Regions from separate parts of the Homo sapiens genome. Here region 2 is reported to be linked to region 1. Evidence: microRNA targets listed by miRTarBase, many of them from high-throughput screens and not tested one by one. Region 1 holds a microRNA gene; the other region holds the end of a gene's coding sequence.

Region 1 (3,520 bases):
GGAAGGAAATCAGGCGTGGGTGCTGGAAGCATCAGCAGCTCACGTGGGGTCAGGGGAGGAGGGCTCACCGGTACAACTTCCTTCTCTCTTCCAGCTCCTCTTCCTGGTGTTTCTGGAACAGGCCTCGAGGGTCGTCGCCCACAGTACGGCCTAGAAGGCCAGAGGAGGGCTTGGCCAGTGACTTTTGGTGAGCGCCTCTTCTCGCCCCTGCCAGGAGAGCCTCATCACTCCGTCCTTCTGTGTGACCCCTGCCTCTTCAGCATCACGCCCCTCCCCCAGGCTCCAGCCACTTTGTGCCAGCTGCAGCCACAGCCCCTTCGACACTCCCAAAGAGCCCTGCGCTCCAGGTTCCAGCACCCCCATCCTGCGCCCTCTTCTCCACACGCGCATCCCCCCAGCTTCTCTCGCACCCCAGAGGCCTCCTGACACCCCCAGCCCCGCGCTTACTGGTGCCTTCAGGCAGGCTCAGGACGCCGTCGACCTCCACCCAGCGGTAACAAGGGAACCTGACCTCGTCCCCGGCTCCGGGGCCCTACACGGAGATCCAGCTGCAGAACCTGAAGGAAGTGACGTTTGCGCAGTTTCACAAACATCAGCGGCCCCAGGTACTCCGGTACTTCCACCTTGAGTTCTGTCTCCTGCGGGCGACAGAAGAGGCTCAGCCCCGGTGGGGCCTGGCGGGAGGGGCACCCGGCTGAGCCCTGCTCCCTCCAGCGCCCACGCCCTTCCTCGGAGCCTCTGAGAGGAGGAGACGTATCGGGGTGGGGGGACTGAGCCAGAGAGAGAGGGACCGCGCCGAGCAGGTGGCCCCAGGACTCGGTTCTGAGGGGACGGGGACGGCAGGTGGGAAGGTGCGCTCCTGCCTTCACTTTCTCCTCCCTGTGGTCACTGACTGTGCCAAGCGCTGGGCTGAGCGCTGCCGCGCCCTGGACGAGCGCGCTGTGGAGCCCGGACGCGCTGGTGGCAATTCCCGCTGTGCGACCCCTCCACCCCACCCCGCCCGAGGCTGAGGACCTGCAGGGGCCCCACCGGCCTGGGGACAACCTTCCCGGAGACCTGGAGGCGGAGAGGGCTCAGCCAGGGAGAGTGACAGAAAGGGAAGGCAGGGGAAAGGCGCGCAGAAAGAGAGCGGCGGGGAAGGGAGGGCGAGCAGCATCTTGGATCTGGAGCTCAGAGCCCAGGTGTGGGGGGTCAGCAGGTCCGGAGGCTCTCGAAGGTGGCGCCAGGGGCTTTGGATTTGGTCCCGAGAACAAGCGGGAGCCGTTCGAATGTGTTAAGCAGGGGGAGTGAATTAGGGAGAAATCATTCCGGCTTCAGAAGGGCTTGGAAGGTCTGCAGCAGAGGTGGCGAGGCCGCTGGAGGTTTGAAATGGCTTTTAAAATAGAGAAACCGGGAGGACCGACGACCGCTCCGGCGACCGCAGTTTCCAGGCACCAGAGCTGTGTGGAATGAGGGGCGCTCAGGAGCATCCCCTTAATTCCAAGGAGATCGAGTAGCGGAAACATTTATTGAGCGTTTACTGTGTGTCACCAACTGCCCACCATAGGGAGGAAAAAAGGGAGGAGGGAGCGCGCCTTTCCACCTTCCGTGCCCCGTCCCCTCACCATGGAGTCGCGGGGCCACCTGCTCCGTGCGCATTTTCTCTCTTTCTGGCTCCCTTTGCCCCGCTTTCTCGGAAGCTCGGAGCAAGGGCGTGGAGTGCGGGGAGCAGGGCTCCGCAGGTTCAAGAGGACGCGGGCGATCGGGGGCGGGACGGATATTGGGCAGGGACGCGGGAGATGCTCAGGGTCTAGAACTGACTGCGCCGGATTCTTGTTTAGAGGGAGGTGAAGAGAGGAAGGAGGCGCGGGTGACACCGGGGGAGGCAGGAGGAGAGGGCTGGGAGGTGGGGAGAGGGGAGGACCTCATCCGGGCATGTTGCTTTGACGTTCCCTGAGACAGACATCCGGATTTGGCGATCTGGGAGAGAGCTAGAGCAGTGATGGGAATTTGGGCTTTCGCGGAAGAAAAAAAGTAACAGGACCGGGTAGAACACCCGGTAGATATGACATGAGATATGACGGGAGGTGGGTCGGGAAATCGAGAGCGTTCTCCTGTCTTGACTCCCCATCCCTTCCCTCTCACCACCCACTCCACCCCAGGTGATAAAGCCTGAAAGGTAGAGATCCAACAGCGCTAGCGGTTGAAACGTTTTTTAAAATAGAGAAAGCGAGAGGACCGACGGCGGCTCCGGTGACTGCTGAGTTTCCAGACAAGGGAGCTCTGTGCAATGAGGGGCGCACAGGAGCATGCCCTCAATTCCAAGAAGATCAGGTAGCCGGAAAATTTATTAAGCGCTTACTGTGTGCCACCTGCGTGTTTTCTGTCCAAATCAGAAAAGGATTTGGACAGAAAACACGCAGGAAGAAGGAATCAACCCCTGGTACAGCAGGCAGGCGAGGTAGGGGTAGGAGTTATGCACGTGTATGCAAGCCTGGATGGCTGGGAAGCCAACCTCCATCTAAAGGCAAGCGCGGACATGCACACACACACACACGCCTCACAAGTTGGATTGCAAGAGAGGGTGAAGTGGGCGAGGAGACCCAGTCAGCCGTGGCATTTGAGGAAGGTACATTTAGGCCACCGAATTCATTCCACCAACTTTGCACACTTGTCTTCCTTGTGCCAGGCTCTGGGACTCATTCCTTTTGAGGGTAAAAGTCTGCCTCCCTGGACTCCTGCCCCTCAGGCGCTCCCACAGCCCGGCACCGCCCCCTCGCCATTCCGGAGCCAGCGCGGGCTAAGCGGGCCTGGCCGGGGATGAGCGGAGCCACCGTCCCCATATTCCTCGGTGCCCCGGGACCGCAAGAGGGAGCCGTGGTTTCCGGAACTCCTCCCGCCCCTCCGGGCTTTTCCTCTGTTAGGCAGGTGGCGATTCGCTGTCTTTGCCTGTTATGGCCGCTGCCGTCGCCCTGGAGACAGGTGAGTAGCGCTCTGAGCCTGGAGTCTTCGCAGATAGAACTCTCCTTGGCCCAGACCTCTTCTCCCGCTTCCCCTGGGCCTCCTTCCAGGCCTCACTCCCGGCAGGATTAGTATTTGGACAGGGAGGAGAGAAGGCTCTTGCAGCGTCTAGAAAGGCTAAGGTACTCTGCAGTTTTCCTAATTTGGTTTGTTCGCACACCTTTGCTATTCAAACACGACCCCACCAGCTTCCCAGCGTGGGCGAGACTAAGGGAGAGGACTTGTGTCTTAAAGCGTGTCCTCCTTGTGTCTTAAAGCGTGTCCTTGATTGGTTTTCTGCTTCTCACATGAGCTTGCATACGTTTGAAATATCGTCGCCAGACCTGTGTATCATTGTGTTACTTGTGATTCTTATATATGCATATGTTCCATCATCTTTTAGGCTCTCTGGAGTCTCTTGTTCAGCTTGCATCCTAAGTTTTTCTTAACTGATTCAGCACGTGCTTTTGCGAAACTTAATCACTGTTAACAATTGTTACAATGCATTATTAAAATAGGGGAAGCCACAGTTATTACAGCC
Region 2 (3,000 bases), not on the chromosome of region 1:
TTTCAGGCATGAGCCACCACGCCTGGCCTAAATGTGACTTTTTCTGATGAGTTAGAGAGCTTTCTCTGATCACTGTAGTTCTCTGTATTTCATTTCTATGAGAGAGACAGTATAGTATGTTCCTGAGAGCAAGCAGACCTGAGTTCTAGTTCTGGCTTTCCCGTTAATGGGATCATCGTGTGACGCTGCACTCTCCTTCTCAGCCTTGGTCTGCACTTCTGAAGGGGGAAAAGGATGGCCCTGATGATCTCCAGGTGCCCATGGACATTGAAATAATATAATTTAATTTCACTCACATACCATTCTTAAACCCAATACCCATTCCTGCTCCTACTGTCTTTTGTAAATAGAATTTTCCCCCCAAATTGTATTTGGGTTTGTTTTGGTTTTAGATGATGGATGGCCCAGGAGAGAATGATCCTGATTTGAAACCTGCAGACCACCCTCGCTTCTGTGAAGAGATCAAAAGAAACCTGCCTCCCTACGTGGCCTACTTCACCAGAGTGTTCCAGAACAAAACCTTCCACGTTTACAAGCTGTCCAGAAACAAGTAGCGCAGATTTCTGCCCAGTGTCTATTTTTGATACGGAGAAACTGCATCATGATGAAACTCAATAGATGACGTTTCCTATGTAAGTAGGTAGCCCAAACCTTCAAGCTGTGATATGAGTAAGTTCTACAGATGTTTACACAAGTGTTGCCATCTTTGAAAGCATCTTCTACAAGCAGAAGTCTTTTTCGTTGTGTGTCTATCTTTCTCATTAATGTTCTTTAGCCTAAATGTTAACAACTTTCTAAGAGTGACCTAGAATTATGTTGTTGGAGAGAATGATGTGTGTTCCATGGATACCTGGATAGGCACATAACATGTTGGAAGATGAGCACCTGCTCAGGATTTGAAATACGTTTAATTTTCAGGTGACTTAAGACAGCTATGATTGAATCAACTAGAGATGATGATCGACTTATTTAATATGATTTCACTGGTGAAGACCAATTGGTAGCTTTTTAAAAAGCACTTTAGTGTCCTGTTTTACCTTAAAATGTTATAATATTTTCCAGTTGTCATGCTGTCAACATTAACAAAAAAAATCATGTTAAGGCTTTGTATCAAACATTTTGTTACACTCTGTCTGAAATGTAATGTGGAGTACTTCAGCAGTATGTGTCATGTATTGTGTGTGTCTGTGTGTGTGCATGTGCACACATGTGTTTTAATGCTGGGCACAGAAAAGTGTTACAAGTTCCATATCGTAAGTCCTTAAAGGGGCAGAAATATATGTAGCCAAGTAGAATTTATTACATTTTAGTGTTATTATTTTAAAACTTACTGATACTCTTTAACCTCTCCTGCAGTAATAGTTTTGCTTTATTTCTTACTCATTTCAATTTATTGGGTTTGCAAAATTTTGTAAACTTTTTGTGTTTTTAGCCTTTGTATTTTTTACAGCCTAGAATCTTGCAAAGTCTGAATATTTTTTAAATGTTCTATCTTAACTAGTTCACTAATACAGTATTTTTAGCAGACAGCATTTTCAGACAGCATTTTCATACCAAGTTTGACTTGTGGTCTCCAATCTTACTGGGAAGGCCCTGGTAGTGTAATTCTTTTCCTTATTAAAAGGTAACCAAGTGCCTCTAAGTCATGCTTATTTGTAAACAACAAAGAAGAGTATATGTACCTGCTCAAAATTTTTTTGATAATCGCTTATATAATTAATTTCTAATGATGAGGACATGTAAAAGTTGCCAGTAAGAACATAGTATGCATTTAATTAAATCAAGATGGCTAATGGAATTAACTTTCTCCCCTGTTCTTGCCAGGTGGAAATGATTTAAGCATTTCTCCTTGCAGTTGTATTGAAGTAAATTACCATAGGCATCAAGATGGCTGCATCACATTTTCAAATGATTTTATATTCAGTTGCTACTTATAAAGCAGCATTCAAAAAGTCTTTTACACTGTCATGTTGGACACAAGCAGACTCAGCTTTTATCAAAACTTGTTTAAATAAAAAATTGACAGTAGCTGGGTTATTAAATTATGCAACTGAAACTCCTGAATTATATCTTTTCTGTATCCCTTAATAAGATTGGAGACCACTGCCGTTTAGGATAATACAATAATAAAACGTTTTAATCAGTACTAAAACTTTAATTAAGCCAATAATGATGCATGCCTGTTGTAGCTGACAGCATGGGTCAGTACATCCTTCAGCGAGTGCCTTACTCTAATTGAAACCAAGCACACGTAAGGTACAATATGTTAGACTCTGTGATTTTGTTTTCAAAATCCTCTGTTATGGCTATATTTAAATTTATTTTAAATATTCCTGTATGTATTCATCTAAGCATTTGGGCATTTGGAGTCTTAATATACAAGAAACACGTACTTAAATTTTTATGCTTATCACCGCAATGATGGCAAACAGTGATTTTTTTTTTCATAGTTTAGGTGTCATTGTTGCCAGCACCTTTAGTGCTCAGTCTTCAGTGAAAAATATAAAGTGCCAAAAAAATCTTGCAAGACAGAATCCATACTTAACACTCTTTCCAAGACACTGTGACCATGTACAGTAGCTATTTCCTGATGACCAAATCTCTCAACGAATCATGTTATTAATAAATATTTTTAGCACTCATCAGTATTCTCCAATGTGACCTTCTCATTGGAGTACACAGAAGGAAAGCAAAGAAGAGCATCTGACTTCTAGCTCTGGCTTACAGCCTCTCTACCAGGCCGAAGCAAGAGACCCGCGGCAGCAGCTCCCCGCCACTCAGACCTGGGTGGTGATAACCTCAAAGAATGGCTCTGTTTTCTATTGACAGAAAACCCACTTGATTTTGCTTCTGAGTTAGCAGTCAGAAGACCCTCTAAGTACAATAGAAGTGCTCTTAACGGACTCTGCCTGTGTGACTCCCAGGCCCCGGAGTCTCCATCTCTCTCGTAAGCCACCTGCCACAGCACAGCTGGAGGCTGTTCTCTGGTGTTCTCAGCGC

What was found. Region 1 holds the annotated microRNA hsa-miR-4520-3p (UUGGACAGAAAACACGCAGGAA, at 2,384-2,405, shown strand). A microRNA usually pairs through its seed, bases 2 to 8, with sites in the 3' UTR of a target mRNA and lowers its output. Matches are read on the target gene's strand: a 7mer-m8 pairs with bases 2 to 8, a 7mer-A1 pairs with bases 2 to 7 and ends in A, and an 8mer does both.
Region 2: miRTarBase lists DPY19L3 as a target of hsa-miR-4520-3p. The part of its 3' UTR that is shown has no 7-base or 8-base seed match.

What each region holds. Positions count from the first base shown.
Region 1 is chr17:6,654,332-6,657,851 of GRCh38, reverse strand. It overlaps MIR4520-1 (microRNA 4520-1), which reads left to right and starts at 2,343; the gene lies at 2,343-2,412. It overlaps MIR4520-2 (microRNA 4520-2), which reads right to left and starts at 2,403; the gene lies at 2,350-2,403. It also overlaps the pseudogene ALOX15P1. RefSeq lists enhancers at 435-484, 259-895, 2,173-2,745.
Region 2 is chr19:32,481,687-32,484,686 of GRCh38, forward strand. DPY19L3 (dpy-19 like C-mannosyltransferase 3) reads left to right here. Exons shown (of 19, transcript NM_001172774.2): 19 at 393-3,000. The coding sequence ends at 554. Among named protein-coding and RNA genes, the nearest start is that of DPY19L3, 77 kb to the left of the region's middle.